Linked DNA regions of Homo sapiens. The protein of the gene in region 2 purifies or fractionates together with the protein of the main gene of each other region. This does not show direct contact. Each region holds a gene or a part of one and is shown on either strand. Other genes may lie near its edges.

Region 1 (5,296 bases), on a different chromosome or scaffold from region 2:
AGGACACTCCCTGCTGCGTGGGGGCCTAGGCTAGAAGGAAGGGTGCCCCAGGTCAGGGGACACCCAGTGGGGAGATGGGAGGAGGGGTCAGGATGGACAGTGGGCCCCATGGCAGCCCCCACCCTGACGCACCAGCAAGAACTCAGGGCATCTGGGCAAGGCCCTCTGCGCACCACCTGGCTGCCTCTGGAACCTTCCCACCCAGAGAAGGGGAATGCACCTCTGGTCCCCGCAGGAACCTGTCTTGAGGCACCAACAACACGCTACGAAGGACTCAAGCCCAGCAAGAGGAAGAGAGCCAAGGACACAGGTCAGCATCGCAGGCACCTACTCTGGAGTCCAGGAGCAGGGATACGGGGGCAGAGGATGGAGCAGCTGGGACCTCAGGGAGAGGTACGCAGGTTGCCATGGCTGCGTCTGCAGTCCACCTGCCTTTCCACGCCAGGGAGTCAGTGATGTGGAGCCCCCTGGGCCCCAGTGGAAGCAGCGATCAGACTATGTGTCCTTGAAATAATGTTTATTCCACGCTGTCCCGACAGCCCCCTCTGCAGGTCCCCTCGGTGTACTCTGAGGTGGGAAACCCTCCCTGGGGGCGGTGAAGGGGAACTCGGGCCACCCCACCAGCCAGCAGATGCTCCAGCAGCCAGAGCCCCAGCCTGGAGCTGAGGCTCTTCCTGGGGCTCGCCGGGCCCCTGCAGGCTTTTCGGACCCTCAGCCAGCCCGGCTTCCTCTGCTTTGGGCAGCAGCAAGCTGGCCCTTGGGCACCTGGACTGCTCACCAGCCGCCCAGCCATGGGTCCTGCTCTCCAGGTTCCTTCTAGCAGATCCATCTCTGTCAGAGCAAGGGACTCAGGCCTGGACCATCTTCTGGGCTGTCACTGGGGCTCTCAGTGGCCATCCCAGCTCTGCGCTGGCCCTTCTGGAGCGTGTAGGCAGACGGCCCCAGCCGCAGGATCTTCCCGCTGCCCAGGCACTCGTCCCCCTTGTAGAACACAGCAAACTGTAGGGGAGAGACCCTGGCATCAGGGGTGCCACAGGGAGCCAGCCGAGGGCAGGCAGGGGCAGAGTGCTCCCCTATGGGGCCTGGCCTGTGCTCGGAGCACCAGGCACTGAGCTCCCAGGGGAGCAGGGTTTTGCTGCTGCTGCTGCTGCTGAACAGGAGAGGAGAGGCCTGGGGCACCCAGTGGCTTCACTAGGGAGGGTCTTCAGGGTACCTCTCCCTGAGTGGGACAGTCACAGGGGCCTCTCCTGGGACTCCAAGGGACTGGCAGGTCTCTGCACCCCTTGGGAATGTGGAGCTGTGACAGGAAGGAGCATGGTGGCAGCCAGAGGATGCTTCCGCTTCCCTCACCCCAGGTTCCCTCCCACCACCTGCCCCTGGAGATTCCTCAGGCCTACACCCACCAGGCGCCCACCCTGGGAGCTCCTGCACACTCGGCCCACAGGGGCCCCGACCCTCTGCCTCTTTGAGCACTGTCCTCATGCCCCTTCCATTTTCTGTCCTCGCTTCTGGGGCCCGGGCAGCAGCTGAGCCTCTCAGGGCCCGAGCAGGAACTGGCTGGTTGGTGACACCAGAGTGGAAATCCTCTCACAGTTGTCACTGTGGGAGGAGCCCCCAGGGCAGGGCTGGTGGCACTCTGCCCTCACCAGCTGTGTGACCCGAGCACACCCTACTCCTGGGCCTCAGCCCCTTCCTCTGTAACCCGGGTGCCCTGGCAGGGTGCAGAGCAGTACAGTCCTCCCCGGGCTCACCCCCACACCCCACGCACCTGTCCTGTGGCAAGGGCACGCACAGCCTGCACAGCTGTCACCCACACGGTGCCATCTTGATTGAGGGTCAGCACACAGGGCACTGGGTAGAAGAGAGGGGCCCTTGGAGGGGGCACAGGCCTTTCCTGGTCGACCTCAGGCCCCCAGGGAGAAAGGAGCACCAGCCCACGGGGTCAAAAACCCCTGCTTAGAGGGGAAGGGCAGGGCACCAGCCTGGGCCCTGGACGCAGCAGGACACTGCGGGGCAGTGTACACACTTGCTTCAGCCCAACACGCCGGGGCCTGCCTGCATCTGCTCCCAGCACCCCCAGGCCTCGCTCAGGGCAGGCACAGGACACGGGAGTTCTAAATACTTTAGGTAATCTCCAAATGATCTCCACAACGGGACTTTCCTACCCCAGGGTCTCCCATCCCTGGCCCAAATCTGGCCTCAGGAAGCTCAGCTTCAAGGGGCCCGTCCTCAGGAGCCCTCCCGTCAGTCACCTAGTGCCATCTGGTGGCGGAATCGGAAGTGGCACTCCATCATCTTGTCCCGGACCAGTGCTGCGGGAGGCTCCTCCGCAATCCAGTGCACGCGGCTGGTCCTCAGCAGGTCCCTGTACAGGGCTGGGTGGTCTGTCCGGGGGGCCTGCAGAATGGAATGTGAAGGTGGGGACGCCGAGGGGCACCTGGCCCCAAGGCCGGCCTCAGTGTGGTCCCTGGGAACAACTGTCCTACCAGCACACACACACACAGGTAACGGTGCTGGCACCGCTCGAAGTGTTCTACCCACAGAAATTCATCTCATCACCCGCCGGGCCTTTGAATCCCCATTTTACAGATGAGGAGACTAAGGCCCAGGAAGGAAGTACCATGTCAGAGTGGGCAAGAGGCAGGGGTGAGATCCGAGCCCATGACAGTGAATGCTGCAGGTTCAAGTCTGACTCAGGCCCTCTACCTGCAACCACCTGTGGGGCAGCAGCACGGCCCCCCTCGAGGACTGGTTTTTCTATTCGCAGGGACAGGGGCCAGCCACACCACGGGCTCTTCTCTCAAGGCCACCCCAGGAATTCCTCCACACACCAAATGGCTGAGGAGAAAGGAGGGACTGGTAGCTGCTGGCTTCCCACAGGTGCCCCAGGACTGGCCCTGGTCTGGGGGGCCCCAGATACCCTAGGTTGGTTCTGAGGCCCCTGCTCCCTGTCACCCACCCATGGCCTCGGGCCATTGAGACCTGGCACCTCCTGGGATTGTGCCAAGCCCCGCCCCTGAAGCAGGACGAGGAGCATGAAGTTAAGGGCTTTGGGTTCTAAGCAGGCACCAAGACCCGTCCAGGGACAGGAGGCCGTTGGTTAACCCTTCTGGTCTTCTCACAGCAAACTGAAATCTAGATCATTTAATTCATTCGCAGCCAGGCTTTTCTCCCCACAGGTCTTCCTAGTAAGGAGATGTCCTGGAATCGGTGGGTGGGGCCTGCTGGCCCCCGCCTCCGTCTAAGAGAAGGCGCCCCAGCATTCGTGCCAGAACATGAGCCGGCAGCCAGGGTGCTGAGAGTGGGCCTTCTCAGCTCCACGCGCCAAGGTGGAGGCCGGGTCACTCAGGGAAGAGGCTGTGCTGAACACGGCAAGCAGCATCCCCGGCCTGACCCACAGATGCAGCAGCACCCGCGTCCTTGCTTTTCCACCCAAGCTGTGACAACCAAAAATGCCTCTAGACACTGGCAAGGTCCCCTGAAGGTGGGGTGAGCTTGCCGCCACTGAGCGGCCCTGCTTTGAGGCCAGGGTCACAGTGGTAAGGTCCCCACTGTGGTGGAAGGCTTGGTTTGATCCTGGCTTGGCCATCTGCACCTGCCTGACAACAACTCACTGGATCCTACCATGGTGGGCACCATCCTTGGCACTGAGGCCATGCCCTCTCCACCGGATGAGCCACCCAAGCTCTGGGCGTCGCTGTCCTCTTTCATAAAATTGGAGAAACTGTATCTGTGTATCGGGGTTCAGGGATGATTAAGAGACCAGCATACAACTCAGCCTAATGAATACCTTAAAACTCTCCTGCCACCATGGCCAGTCCCAGGAAAGGCAGGGGACCAAGGACAGGAACAGAGTTAGTCACAGCCTCCAGGAAGCCACGGCTGCTGGAGGCCTTCTCAAGCCCTGGTCTGGAAGCACTGCTGGCCCTGCCAGAACCAGCCCCAGTGCTGTCTCAGAGGCCGGCCCACTCACCACAAACACGTCACCCTTGACGCTGTCCTTCTCCACCACGTACCAGGGCTCTCTCAGGCCACCTATGTTTGCTCTCTGGCCCAAGGTATACAGGAACCAACCTACAGAAAGACAGTTTCTCCATGAGGCTGGGCAACAAGTTACAGCCCACATGTCACGCCTCATCATGAAGGCAGATGCTGGGAGGGCAGCCCAGAGCAGGCCCAGCAATGGTGTAACTCACTAGGAAGATACGATTCTCCAACCACCAAAGCCAGCCCTGACCAAGCACCTGAGCACATCTCATCATTGTCCAGGCCTGGGCTGGACATGGGGTGTGGTGGCCACAAAGAAGGCACCTTGTGCCCCAGAAGGTGCAGGTTCCAGCTGTAGGAGCCCCTGACCCTAGGCCCAGGATGCGGCTGGGTGCCCTGTGTGACGCCAGGGGCCCTTCTTGCTGAGCCCATGACATAGCTGCACGTCTTCACAGTGTCCATCTAATGCAGTAACTGCATCAGGGCTACCCCCAGCTGCTCTGCGCACCCTCACAATGTCACACAGCAGATGGCAAACTCACTGCCTCCCTCCCCTGCAGTGGGGCACACAGGCAGAGAGAACCTCATGGGATTTACCACGTGGCCTGGGCCGGCAGCCTTCTTCAGTGAAGTGAACTGCAGGTGGAAGCCATGAGTCATCCAACTGGCTCCTGCTGGGGCCAGGGCTGGCAGATACATGGGCAATCCTGTCTGGCAGTTCTGTCCCAAGCAAAGCTGTCACCTCCACCTGTCTCAGGAATGCCTAGCCCCGGCTCCGCCTGCCGTCTCCCCTCCACAAGAGGTGGAAGATCTCCAAGTGCAATTCACTGCAAGACGCCCTACACCTGAGCTGCAGCCTGGCTCTCCTGGCCAGTCCCACAGCTCAGGTCTGTGCTGTGTCAAGACCTGCCTGATCATCACGCCGGCAGGCACATCCCCGCCACTGTACTAACCCAACAATGGCTGCACTCTGTCCCCACAGCAGGACTGCACACTGTGACTGACTCGGAGCCTGTCCCCTGACACCAGGCACAGCACAGGCTCACGCAGGCCTCACCGCAGTAAGGGTCTGCACATGAGCGAGCAGCACTCTGGCCAGCGCGGACGCCTGATCCCATCGCTGCATGTGGTCCTTAATCATTCACACCATGCCGGGACGTCCACCTTACTCCCTGAATCAGAGTGGAGTTTTGTGTAGTTTAACATTTTCCTTACACAGGAAGGAAATCATTCTTTTTACAGGGACTTGATACGTAACTCACAGAGTATAGTCCTTCCAAGTCAGAGGCGCGCTTTTCATGAACTCCAG
Region 2 (9,509 bases):
AGGCCGCGCTCTCAGGTGAAATTAAAATTGGAGGTCAGTTCCCGGATCCGATTCTCTCGGTTCATTTTCTTGAGTTTCATTCTGCGATTTTGAAACCAGATTTTGACTTGTCTGTCTGTAAGGTTAATGGTCTTGCTAATCTCCAGGCGGCGCTCTCGCGTCAAATACATATTGAACAGAAATTCTTTCTCCAATTCCAGCGTCTGGTGTTTAGTATAGGGGCACCTCTTCTTCCTTCCGCTCTTTGCTGTCAGCCAATTTCCTGTGGTGTTTTCTGCCTTTATCTCCTCTGTTAAAAATAACATTATTTACATAAGTATCCCTCGAAGTCGAAAACCCTCTCAGCGCTGCAGCCTTTGCCAGCCTGCTGTGGGGTGGCTGAGGGAGCACAGGGGAGCTGCTCTTGCCCCAGGGGCCTGGCGGTGGGCTCCTCTTAGGCTCAAGGTTCTTACAATTTCTTTGGGGTTTAGACTTAGGGAGATAAAGGGAGGAAGTTCTTGCCTCCAAGCATTTATTAAATTTAAATTACCCAAGTCCACCTTAATCTAAAAGATCCTGAGTACCCTGGCTTTCCCCCAGCTGGCTGACCCTGGCAGATTCCCTAAACCTTGCCAGATCCCCCCTTCTCTCTGTTCCATTCCAGCTCTGGAAAAATCCAACCAGATGGAAAAGCATTTTCCAGGCCCCAGACCAGAGCAGAGTCCACCCACAGACCAGAGAAATTCCCAGAGAGCTTTGACCTGTTTCAACTCAGTGGAGGGACTTTGTTCCAGGATCTGTGGCCAGAGGCCACTGCAGTGGTCCCTGTCCTGGGCCCCCAGCTCTTACCCCAACCTGAGCTGCCACAGAGTGACTCTGCTCCCTTAGGTCTCCCATTGCCATCTCTTCCTCTCTTAATCATTTCTCCCAGGTATGTGCAGCTGAGGGGAGCTTGTAAGAGCAGCAGAGGTCAGGGGCAACAGAGCTGGGGCAACCTAAGGGGTCCTCAAACAACTTTCCTGGCCAAAGGACCTAAGGTCAAGGGAGAGACATATCCTGAGGAAATGCAGCCTCCTAGAAACCCCCTGCCCAGTCTGTGCATACGTAGATGTGTATGCCTGCAAGTACACATGTATACCTGCAGAGATACACACACCTATACACATAAGTACACACACATAGATATGTACATGAGTCTTTTTTTGTAAGGAGATACTATAGAATACTGTGTATTTCCCATGAGCTTATTGACAGCCTCTATCCCTGACACACATTCTTGCTGAAATGGACCAGCCTTGCTTCTCAAGTAGCAGAAGGGAACCTGGCCATCTTTTTAAGGGCAAAAAACAGAGTCCAAAGACCTGAGAGGACACCCAGCAAAGGACTCTGCTGATGGCTCTGAGCTCTCTCTCCTCCCTATTCCAATGAGGCTGCCAGGTTCCTGGATCTTATCTTGTTGGGGGCGGGGTGAGGCGGGGGCCTAAGAGGAACCAGAAAACACACAAAAAAGGCAAACTTGAGGTTGCAGTCTAAAAAAATCTGAATGTCCCGAATTTTCTCTCCTGTCTCTGCACCTGCAGCTTCTTGCCAGATTGTTTACAAGCTCTCCACATCTAACTACGTCCTGTTTATTTTCTTACTGGAGTTGTTAGGTTTGGTGGGGTGGGGGGACAAGACAAATTATAAATGGGGAAGTTTAATCAAAAGCTCTCTTGCCTCTGGCCTGGTGGAGACATCAAAACAGGAGGAGAGGAAAGAAGGGCACAGAGAGGGTACAGGGTAAGAGGGATTCCTTGGGGTGGGAGGGATTAGGTTGCTGTGGGGACAGCTAGAGGAAAGGGAGAGCCTATGGGAATGGGTGCAGGTCGAGTTAAGAGGTGAACTTGTTAACCTTGACTTTGCTTTTGGTGGGGGCTAGAATGCAGGTTTTCCTGCCCCAAATCTGCTCCCTAACCAAGCTCAGGGTCTGTAGAGAGGGTATAAGATTAAACCTTCACACTGCACACGTGCCAAACGAAAGGCTTTGAGGCTGTAGGCGCCTCACTCTCCCCCTTATCCTCATGAACACACCAGCGCTCATCTTCCAGTCAGTGTCTCTATGGGGATGATTTACCAAGACCACCTTTGCAGACCCAAGGGGATGAGGCTCTGCCCTTGCCCGCCAAAAGAGTGCCTGTGCATGTGTGAGCGGGCATGCGTGAGTGTGCAAGGATCATGCAATATGGATGTGCGTGAGTGTGGCACAGGTCGCCCGTAGGCATGCGTGTGCGTCGCATCCATATACAAAGCACCAGGAGATCCAGGCCGCCCCCAGCCTGCTCCGCTCTCAGTATTTCATCTTCCTCTACACCCAATGAGCCCCTTATATACTGTCACCAGTAGCCGGTGTTGTGGGGAGCAGGTTTATTCTTCCCCGTTGGTTGGGCCTTTTTCTGAGGCTCTTGCTACAACTTTTCAGGAAAAGTCGTTCCCCTCAGCTTTTCCTCCCCTGCTCCCGTTTCCTCCACATTCTTTCCCCAAGTATCAGAGAAAGATCCCGAAGGCCCCCAGCTCCTACAGCAGAAATGAATCTTGAACCCTGAGCTTGAACTCTGGCTGGGCTTTCTCTCAACCAAAATTACAGTGAAATCCAACCAAAGCCACATTCCCTTTCAGGAGAAAACCTCTTGCCACGCACACAGAAATTTCCCAACCACTCATTTGTAAGCTGCTTTTGGAAACCAATGAAAAAAGATAATTTAACTAGAAAAAAATGGAAAAGAAAAAATTAAAAGAGGAAACAGAAAACTTACAACATTCCAAATGCCCTGTTCCAACGCCATCCAAGCCAGGCATCTGGAGGAGGGAGGGACGTGGCGGGCAGCCCTTCACCTCCACCTCTTCCGGCTCCAGCCTCGCTGCCCAAGGCCCCCGGCCGAGCCAAAAGCCGCAGGAGCCCAAGCCGCACGCACAAATCAGACCCACAAACAACAAATCGCGTTTCGCAGGAAACAATTTTCAACTGGGAAAACGCAGTAAAGAGAACTCCCCCCATCTCCCCAGCCTTCCCTAGTCCCTGGCCCAAGATCGCCATTTTAGGCTTTTTGCAAGCCCCTGACCTGAGCTGGGGGACGTCAGCTCCCCAGGACACCAGCATTGAGAAAGCAAACCACAGCCAGCACGCGCCTGGGAGCAGCCACCCGTCCGGTGCAGCACACTGCGCCTGCAGGCGGCCCGCGGTGCGCACCGCCCCCGCCTTAGCACCCATGGCCGGGGCAGGGCCGACACCTCCACGTCGCCGCTTACCTTCCCCAGCTAAGTGACGCGCCACCAGCCTGGAGCTCAGCGGACGCTAGTCGAAAGCCAGGGTCGCATTCCCGAAATGGTCTGGGGCCTCCTGGGCCCAACCCTCTCCCCTGCCCCCCTCCCCGGCCGCGAAGACCAAGTGCCGGAACGTCCCAGTGGCGCCCGCGGCCCAGGCGGCCTTACCTTTCGCTTCGTTATCCGAGGTGTCTGGGCTGGAGTCGGCAGCTTTGGCCCTCTCCTTTTCGCTCTCCGAGGGGCTCCCTTTAGGGCCCGCCAGGCTCTGCTCCGTCTTGATTTCATTGGGGCTGGGGGTCTGGCTGTCGGACTTGGGGGTCTCAGGGAAACTCACTTTGCCCCCCAGCTGAGGCGATTCCAGATGTTCGGCGCGCGGGTTGAGACTGGCCCGCTGCTCGAAAGGGGCTTCGAAGTCGTTGGCCCCAGAACAGTGGGGCGTCTTGTCCAGCGCGGAGTAGCTCGGGCTGGCGCGGTAGTAGCTGGGCACGGGTACCTCGTGCTCCCCAAGGCAGGACTCCGGCAAGGGGTGGGAGTAGAGAGCTGCCTCGGGGCCACTTTTCGCCCGCTTCTCTGCGCTGTACATGCAGCAGACATTCTCCTCCTTGACACTAGGTGGGTAGGAGCAGGAGGACAGCGGCCTGCCAACAGGTTGTTCCAGGCGATAGGCGGCTTTGGGGTCGCCCCAGGAGTCCAGCTGCGAGAGGTAGGACGGATAGGTGTTGAGGGCGAGGCTGGGGCTGCTGCCCTCGTCCCTCTTGGAGAGCGAGGGCGCGAGCCCGCAGCCCCTCATCACCCCGCAATTGAAGTCACTCCCAGACTGCATATACATGCCTGCGCTCCGGCTATAGCGCTCTCCTCCGCCGGGCGCAGCCAAGGGCTCCGCGTACGAGTTCGGAGTTACATTGCGAGGGCATGTCATTTTCAGAGAGAGGGGTTTTTAAGGAGCAATACTACAGCGGAGGAGCTGACATCTTTTTTTTTCCCCATCCGGGAGGGGGGGCGCGGTTGGAGGGGAGGGAGGAAAAAGAAGGGGAGGGGGGGAAATATCAGCTCCGTAATTATCCGCGCATTCGGTTCTCACCATGTGACGGCTAGACCAATGGGATTTGAAAATGGCCTTGATGATTCAGACGGCCGTGACGTCAGCGGGGTCAAGTTGTCGGCAGGCGGAGCGCGCAGAGTGGAGTAACAGCGCCATCTAGCAGCTGCCTCGGGGTAGGGGCACCGGAGCCCTTCCCCGCGAACAAAGGAAGCGCCCCCCGGGCGGCAGGGGAGGTAGAGGGGTGGAGGGGGGTGGGGGTGGGGGTGGGGGTTCTAGGAAGAGTGGGGTTTGTTTATCCAGTAACCAGCCTGTAACTCCTGGGGAGAAGGGGGCGGAGAGGGGGGAAATGCGGGAGAGAGGGAGAGAGCGAGGCAACCCGGGGCTCAAAACAGTCAAATTCAAATTAAAAGGTCGAGACACGAATCAGGTACTTCTCCCCACTCTTCATCTCCCCTTTCCATATCCCCGGACCCGACTCCCACTTCTTACCTTGGGGATGGGAGTGGGGTGAGGTTTGTGGGGGGGGGGGTTTGGGGGGATCTGATGAGCAGAGAAAGGGGAAAAAAAGTTAAGGAATACCAAACAGGACTAAAGTTTCTGCTCTCCCGCCTCCTCTTTTCCCCGGGCTTGGCCCTCGGGGCTGGAAGCTTGGGGGCCGCGGCGCTGGAGTTGCAAGTTTCCTGTGGGGGTTGACTGGGAATCTCCAGCCTCTAGGGTGGGCCAGGGAGGGGGTCACGGTCACTTCATGGCTGCTCGGAAAAGGAGGTTCCGAATGGACGCGGGGTAGGGGAAAGAGGAAGCCAGAGACCAGAGGCACCCGATCCCCGACCCGAGAGCTGTGGCCTGGGCCTGGCAGGGTGGGCGGCTCCTGGGTCACCATCTCAGGGGCCCACAAGGCTTTGGCCTTGGAGCCGGTTCTGCTGCTTTACTTCAGGCCCTGGCGGTCCTCGCTTTCCGCTTGACCTTGCCCCCGCTAAAACAGGGAATATTCCGGGAAAGAAAGAGGGAACCTGCGGAGCCTCGGTCAGTTTGGAGGAGTCACGTATCACACGGGAAACCAGCACACAAGACGCAACAAAACCCGACCCAGAGAAGCGTCCTTTACAGAGCGCACGGGCTGGGAGCATGTTTGAAAGAAGACAGACCAGTCTATTTTTGTGGTTGTTTTTAAATAAAAGGAAGAAATAAGGGGAACCGTATGTTTCAAACAGTTATTTCCGTTTCTCCATCGCCTTCTTCCAAAGCGAACTAAACTCTCCACCCCTTCCTCAGGAAACGGAATCTGGAGAACAACTTGTCTTTCCTGTCGCCCCACATTTTTCCTTGGACAGAGCCTAGGGTTCAGACTTTCCGAAGGGCTGGAGTTTGGCGGGGAAAGGACTGGAGCCCAGCGCCCTGGAGTGGAGGAGTGAGGAGGCTAGACCGTTTCTAAGGAGGCCCAAGCCCGCTGCGGCTAGAAGACCGCAGAAAGAAATCCGCCGAATTTCCCCATCCAGGGGTGGAGAGAGAAGACGCAGGGGTTCCTGAACCTCCGGAAAACTGGAAGGAAATGTGGAGTGTATGATTTGCTTGCAGGACCGGCCAGGGGAGATTTGAAATGGTTTTGTGTTTTCATATGCAGGGTCACCGTGGCCTCAGCATGGGGGTTATCCAGGGCAAGGTTAGGCTGTTTAGGCCCCAGACTTGGGACAGTCCGGGCAGCAGTCAATCCAGGGAGCCATTTGTCCCACCGCCCATCCCGCGGGAAACGGGCGAGACTTTATGGCCACTCTGTTTGTATTATCTGCATTAGTCTTTCCCCACCAGTTTGATCGAAACCGTTCCCTTTTACGAGGACCCAACGAAAATTTCCCGTCATATTTATCAGCCAGGGATAAAAATTTAGTATGGGAACTGATATTTCCTCATTTATGGGACGATGAAATTAAATACCAAAGCAATTGAGAATTATATGGCTTTGGGGGTTCCCTCCCCCCTCTTTCACGTCTCCTTTATTTTCCTGCCTGGTGTGCTTTTCCCAGGAATTTAGCGTCCCAGTTCCCTACCCTTACCCCCCACTTTGGAGTCTGGTGGGTCCTTTTCCCCACGGCCAAGTGGCCCTTGGCCACCTCAGCCTTTTCTTTTTTTTTTTCTCTGGGTGTTAGTAGCTGGGGGCCAGGACAGTGCTACCCGAGCCTCTGCCCAGGCCAGCCAGGACAGGCTGGGATCAGAGAAAGGTTTCCAGGGAAGAGCCGCAAAGGGTTTGAGCCCAGCCTGGGAGGGGGTGAAGGAGTCGGCAGGAAAGGGTGAAGGAGATAAACTTCAGACAAGCCCCAAGGCGTAGCCTGGGGAACCAGCAGACAGGGAGCAGACCCATCGGCCTCAGGGGTCCCACCACCCAACCTCTTTCCAAGCCCACCTCTCACCTTAGCCAAGGGAGAGGACAGAGTCGCTTCGGAATTATCGCCATCATTAATGAAAATAATACTCCAGGGAGGAGCCTCCCGCCTCGACTCCCACCTCCTCACAAGACAGAATAGTGTTTAAAGTTGAAATAATTAGAAGTATGATAAACACGGCCGATTAATGAAAAAAGAAATCAAATTCATCAGCCTAAGTGGGACCCCCGGTGGGACAAATGTTTGCCTCTAATTACGCAAGATAAACGAAAACCCGGTGCTGCTAAACTAGAGCCCGCTCGGACGCAGACCTGAATAACTTGTTGGGTTTTCACAGACTTTGAGATTCTGCTTCAGTGGAGGTAAAAGGAAGGAAAAAGTGAGTGTTTTATCCTGGCGAAGGGAGCATTTGTGCGGGCCTGGGTCCCAGCCCTGCCCCCTTGGGCTCGGTCTTTCCCGAGGCCACGAGCAAAGGCTGTTTCGGTCCTATTGTCCGGGCCTGGCGTTCAAAGGCATGCGGGCCGCCACAGCGACCCCGCCTGCCGCCACTGCCAGGCACCCACCGCCCTGCCCCACAGGGCCAAGATCCTTCAGCCTGTGCCCTTGGCAACTGGATTAGGATCCAGGGGAGGCCTGTGTTGCTAGAATCACCCACATATGGACTTTTATTAATCCATTTCCCCAACTTTCCGAGGGCGCTGAGACACCTATGCCTATGCCTACGTCTGGGGCTCCCCCCTCTTACCTCAACTTGGGAACATGAAAATCCAGGGGCTGCAAGCCACAGTGGGGCTCAAGCTGTGCATACGACCTGACAAATCCCACCCAGGGCCAATGCCCTGGCCCCTTTCTCCCTTCCCGGGTACCCAGATCCTGGAAAGGCAACAAGGACGGGGCTGGGCCTCCTTCTGTCTGTGGGGCTGTGAGCAATGCAGAGGAGGAGGGTTCAGGAGCTCTGTGAATACTCTGGGAGGATCCAGCGGGTTCCACAGGGCAGCCCAAGGGCTGGGGCGCTAGGGGTCCCCACGTGAAAGCAGAAGAAGGAAAATATGCTCAATGAACAAAAAAGGACCTTTGTTGCTTTCTTGGCTGTAGCCCTCAACACACCCCAGAAGCACCCTGGTTTCTCCAGCAAAAAATTGGAGTTTCCCCAACAGGTTAAGAAAGTCAACTGGGAAATTCTGAAGATGAAGTGAAAAAGGAAGAATGTCTTTCCCTTTTGGGTTAAATAATAAAATAAAAATAAAGTGTGTGTATTGAAATCTTTTTAAGCAAAGAGGAAACAGAATCACACCAGAGATTGCAGGTTTTTTCCTCTTGCTTTGGAGGCCGAGATAAATCCTTCCCTTCCCAAAACTTGAAGAAAAGATTCGCTTTTCTTCTTCACTAGCACCAGGCTCTGCCCCAGCTGAATTGGGAGCAGGGAAATTCCAGGCAAAATTCGGAATGCCCAGAGACCCAGAAAAGAAAAAGATTTTCAAACAGGTACTAGAGGGAGGTAGGAGGCTGAGGACACTTAGCAGGGCCTCTGGTCTACTGTGGACCTCACAGCCCCCCAGGCAGCTCGGCCAGCAGAATCTCTCACGTCTTGACATTGCACACACTTGCACACAGATGCTACGGAGTTCAGCATCTATACACGTGTCTAACTTGCACTTAAATATGTGTACACAGCCACAGATATTCACTTTTACCCAAAGTGCTGTCTAAGATCTCCGAATCCCGAATTCTAATAACCCGCGCCAGTCTGACTGCTTCCTGGCCCTGCCGAAGCTGGCCAGTTATTTAATTTTGTCCCCTGAATTGAAACCAGACCGAAGACACCTCGGAGAGAAGCTTTGGGAGGAGGGTGGGAGGATGTCTTAGGGGCAGGCCCTGCCCCCCACTTTAGTGGTTTGCTTCTAAGTTGCCCCCAGTAAGTCAGGTTTCTAGCTAGAGTCGGGGCTGTGGTTAGGCTGGCTTGCTCCGGAGAAAAACACCGAACCTTTCTTACCGGTTAAGTTCCTTTTCAAAGATCTCTGTTTGCCTTCCTTTCCTTTCTTATTTTTCTTTTTTTTTCTTCTCTTCTTTCTTTCCTTCTTGTTTCATCCTTCTCTTTTCTCTTTATTTGCTTCTTTCTGTTTTTCTTTTTCTTTTTTCTTCCTGTAATTTATTTTTTCCTACTTTTTCCAATCCTTTCTCTTTCTTGTCTTCCTTATTTCTCCCATTTCCTTGTTTCCTTCTTTCTTTATTATACAATTAATTCTTTGCTCTTTTCTCTCTCCAATTATTTCCTTCCCCCTGACTTTCTTTCCTAGCCTTTCTTATTTTTCTCTGGTGTGCTGGGCTTAGTGAGGGGGACAGCACCAGGCTCAGTCGCATGCCTCCCTAGCCCAGCTGCTAAGGCTTGGAGTTGACCTTCTCCCGCCTACAGCCTTAGCTCAGCTCCTCCTCACAAGGCGAAGTGTAGGGCTGCCAGTCATCAGCAGCCAGGCCCCAGCAGTCGCCATTAGAGGGAGGAAAAATAGGATTCTGGGGCACATCCACACTAGTGCTGATGGCTTCTTGAAGTGCTAGGATTCAGGGGTCATGTATTTTCACTTCCATCACCCCAAAGGAGGCTTGTCTACCAGGCCTACCTTTGGAGAAGTCTGTCCCATCTTTGTCCTGACCTCCGGAGCTGAAACATTAAAATGGCCCAAAGTTGAGCCCAGTTGGTGCTCCCAAGGCTGGAGTCAGGGGAAATGAGCGAGTGGGATTTTGTCAGTCCCAGGTTGAGGGGCAGGTCCAGGGGTCATCCGTGGGCAAGGCCATCTCCCACATGGCCGCCT
Region 3 (3,803 bases), on a different chromosome or scaffold from region 2:
GCGTTGTAGTCCAGCTACGCCTCTGCGGCTCCGCGCGCTCTAGGGCGGCTAACGGCCCCCATCGAGCGCCAAGTTCAGCTTCGCGCGCTCCCCTTAGTGTTTTTAACGTGTAGCCCGGGCCGCTCCCATGATACACCGGTGTAGTCCCTGCCGCAACCAACCGCTTTGTGGTGAGGCGGGGCGGGGCGGGGCTGAGGCCACGCCTTCCAGCCCGCTGAGCAATCAGGATTTGGCTTTGGGGCCTCTGAGACAAGTACCCGGGCTTTGGGTTCCTCTCCTTCGTCCCTTCCACCCAATAAACCGGCTCCATCGGCTTGTCCTCTATTTCCCTGAGACTATGCTCCCTATTTTCTAGCTCAGGGGCCAGCAAATGTTTTCTGCAAAGGGCCAGGTTGTAAATGTTTTGGGATTTGCAGGCGGCAAAGACTCAACTCTGCAACTGTTTCAACTGCCAGTGTAGCGCGAAAGCAGCTATCACAATACTAAATGAATTAGCCTGGTTGTGTTCCAACAAATTTTATTTATGGACTCTTAAATTTCATATAATTTTCACTTGTCACATATAAATTTCACCTGTCATTGTCACAGAATATTATTTTGATTTTTTTAATCATTAAAAAAAGTAAAAACCACTCTCACAGCCCTTACATTAAAAAGGAGGTGGGCCAGATTTGGCTGCAGGTGGGAGTTTGCAGACCCCAGTTCTAGAGGGGTAAACTAATGGTTTAATGACCACAGCTGCTGCTCACACATCAAGACAGACAGACATGGGCCGGGCGTAGTGACTCATGCCTGTAATCTCAGCACTTTGGGAGACTGAGGCGGGTGGATCACTTGAGGTCAGGAGTTCGAGACCAGCCTGGCCAACATGGTGTAACCCCGTCCCTACTGAAAATACAAAATATTAGCTGGGCGTGGTGGCATGTGCCTGCAATCTCAGCTACTGGGGAGGCTGAGACAGGAGAACTGCTTGAACCTGGGAGGTGGAGGTTGCAGTGAGCCGCGATCCCACCACTGCACTCCAGTCTGGGCGACACAGCGAGACTCCAACTCAAAAAAACCCCAAAAAGACAGGCAGGGTCAGAAGTGTGAGTCCTTGATTCCAAGGTGGCAGGTGTAATCAGGGAGCTAAGAATTCATTATTTTTCTCATTCTTGGTCCAGTTACCTACAGAAATGGCTCCTGTAATTACAAGACCAGGAGGTAGGGCCAGGCCCTGGGGAGAGGAGAAGGGGCTGGCAGTGCAGGAGCGAGAGTCCCAGGGAATGGCCCACTCCCTGTTAGGGTGGGAGTTGAGACAGGTGCAGGCGCAGGATCTCCTCTGCCCGCTTCAGGTACTCAGCTGCCTTCTTCTTCACACCTTCCTGGCGGGCAGGCAACGGGTCACCTGTGGAGAGAGAATGCTCAGCTGAGGCACCTGGGCACCACTGGCCTGGTCAGAACCCCTGGTCGGGTCCTTTACAATTCGCAGAGCATCACCATGTGCTTTTCCCTCCTCTCTGGGGCCCAGCATCCATTCTCCTCAGTCTACAAATAAGAAAACTGAGGCCATGCTGGGCGCGGTGGCTCACGCCTGTAATCCCAGCACTTTGGGAGGCCGAGGTGGGTGGATCACGAGGTCAGGGGTTCGAGACCAGCCTGACCAACATGGTGAAAGCCCATCTCTACTAAAACTACAAAAATTCGCTGGGCGTGGTGGCACGTGCCTGTAATCCCAGCTACTCAGGAGGCTGAGGCAGGAGAATGGCTTGAACCTGGGAGGTGGAGGTTGCAGTGAGCCAAGATTGTGCCACTGCACTCCAGCCTGGGCGACAGAGCGAGACTCTGTCTCAAAAAATAAAAATAAATAAATAAAAATAAATAAAAAATAAAAATTCAAAAATTAGCCAGGCATGGTGGTGGGCGCCTGTAATCCCAGCTAGTCGGGAGGCTGAGGCAGTAGAATCACTTGAACCTGGGGGGCGGAGGTTGCAGTGAGCCGAGATTGTGCACTCCAGCCTGCAACAAGAGCAAGACTCTGTCTCAAAAAAAAAAAAAAAAAAAGAGGAAGAAGAAAACTGAGGCCACAAGAGGTTAAAAACAACAACAACAAAAAAACAGAAACAAAAATCTGCCCAGGTTACACAGCTGGTCAGTGAGGAGTAAAAGGGCTCCTGATCCGTGATTTGCTTGTTTTTTTGCTCCCTTCATCACTGCCCCACCTGGGACCCAGGCCTGACCCTCCACCCTCAGTCCCTACTCACTGGGGACTCCCTGAAGCAAGACGTGCACGCCGTCTCGATAGCCCTGGAGTGCAGCAGCGTAAGCGCCTGCCTTCTCATCCCGCAGGGCCTGGGTGATGAGCTCTGTGGCCTGGCTTAGGTAGGCAGGGGTGGGCCCTCCTTCCCCATCCTCTTCCTCCTCCTGCCCTCCTGGCTCCCAGGGTTCCTGGTCCAGCCTTGCAGACTCCACCTCCATCGTTGCCAGCTCAGCCACATGGGTGGGGCTGGGGGCTGCGCCTTCTGCAGTTAGAAAGGGAGGACTCGGACCAGACTGGCCCTTCCTTTCCCAGGCCCTCTGCCCAACCCCAAGACTTCTTTTGTCCATCAGGGTATCAGCCTGTCCCCAGTAGAGGGGACCAATGCCAGAGCAATCCAGAAGTCGTCTGTGGATCAAAAACTAGCCATGAGCTATTTGATCGATAGGGTTCATGTGCTTCTGTAAAAACAGCCTTACCTTCCTAATTATGTCTTTAGGTACACACTCTAGTTTGTAAGCTCTGGGTCACTGGTCCTATTTCCCTCTTGACTCCAGTTGACCTAGAAATCCAAAAATCCCCTCCAGAAAGTTTCCCTGAAGGATGCTAGGCCACCACCACCAGGCTGAGGGTAGAAATGCTCCAAGACTTGGAATAATCTTAGAATAGGAGACTTAGAGAATCTCAGGGGTTTTCTGAAGCCTTGCAGTTTCAGCTGAGGCCCCCAAATGTAAAGACAGTGAGTGACAGGTGTCCTCACATTTCCCAGGTAAAGGCTCATTATATCCCCCTGGACTGGCTAAAAGGGGGTCGGACATCCTACCTGCAGCTTACACACGAGGCGACTGGAAATCTGGTGCACCTTTGGTGAAAAGGCCTCTGAGGGGAAGGTGCGGGGGCAGGAAGCATCATGATACCCTATCATCCTGGAGAGGGAAAAAGTGGGTGCCTCTCTAACCCCATCCCTGTGAGTTCCATGAGAGCCCTGAGAAGTCCGGGCCTCCTGCAGGAGGGAGAAGGCACCTCCTGGCTGGGCCTACAGCCCTCCATGTATTGCTCAGGGAGCAGAGAGCAGAAGAGTACCTGGGACACCTGCACACTCGAGTTAAGGAGTTTGCTGTGAAGAAGGGAGACACAGGTGCCCACTCCTTGCCTCGAGAATTCTGGTGGTGAGAGGCTTGTTGGAGGTGCCCACCATGGCAGGGTAGGGAAATAAGGCAGTGTCTGAGCACACTGCAGTTCCAGGCTTTGGGGACTTTTCCCATGGGCTGAGTGAATGTCTCATTGGAGCTGTCTGTGAAGGGTCTTGAAAAGATCCTGGCTGGACACAGTCACTCATGCCTATGATCCAGCACTTTGGGAGGCTGAGGTGGGAGGACTACTTGAGTCCAGGAGCTTGAGACCAGCCTGGGCAACATAGTGAGATCTCATCTCTACAAAAAATCAAAAACTTAGCTGGGCATGATGGTGCATGCCTGTGGTCCTGTCCCAGCTATTTGGGAGGCTGAGGTGGGAGGATCGCTTAAGCCTAGGAGTTGGAGGCTGCAGTGAGCCGTGATCGCACCAC

Evidence for each region. Proteins that work in one complex are often made in the same cells at the same time.
Region 1: the proteins of HOXC10 (region 2) and TRMU purify together in Homo sapiens (affinity purification with mass spectrometry; 2 studies listed by BioGRID and IntAct, with this or other methods). This does not show direct contact.
Region 3: the proteins of HOXC10 (region 2) and SNX15 purify together in Homo sapiens (affinity purification with mass spectrometry; 2 studies listed by BioGRID and IntAct, with this or other methods). This does not show direct contact.

Annotation. Positions count from the first base shown.
Region 1 is NC_000022.11:46,352,545-46,357,840, reverse strand, and holds the end of TRMU (mitochondrial tRNA-specific 2-thiouridylase 1), read right to left. Parts: intron 4,075-5,296; coding exon 3,974-4,074; intron 2,398-3,973; coding exon 2,253-2,397; intron 1,852-2,252; coding exon 1,769-1,851; intron 1,000-1,768; coding exon 835-999; 3' UTR 501-834; downstream 1-500. UniProt on the Homo sapiens protein: Catalyzes the 2-thiolation of uridine at the wobble position (U34) of mitochondrial tRNA(Lys), tRNA(Glu) and tRNA(Gln).
Region 2 is NC_000012.12:53,979,949-53,989,457, reverse strand, and holds the start of HOXC10 (homeobox protein Hox-C10), read right to left. Parts: upstream 4,313-9,509; 5' UTR 4,199-4,312; coding exon 3,448-4,198; intron 290-3,447; coding exon 12-289; 3' UTR 1-11. UniProt on the Homo sapiens protein: Sequence-specific transcription factor which is part of a developmental regulatory system that provides cells with specific positional identities on the anterior-posterior axis.
Region 3 is NC_000011.10:65,037,270-65,041,072, reverse strand, and holds the end of SNX15 (sorting nexin-15), read right to left. Parts: intron 2,502-3,803; coding exon 2,244-2,501; intron 1,388-2,243; coding exon 1,281-1,387; 3' UTR 501-1,280; downstream 1-500. UniProt on the Homo sapiens protein: May be involved in several stages of intracellular trafficking. Overexpression of SNX15 disrupts the normal trafficking of proteins from the plasma membrane to recycling endosomes or the TGN.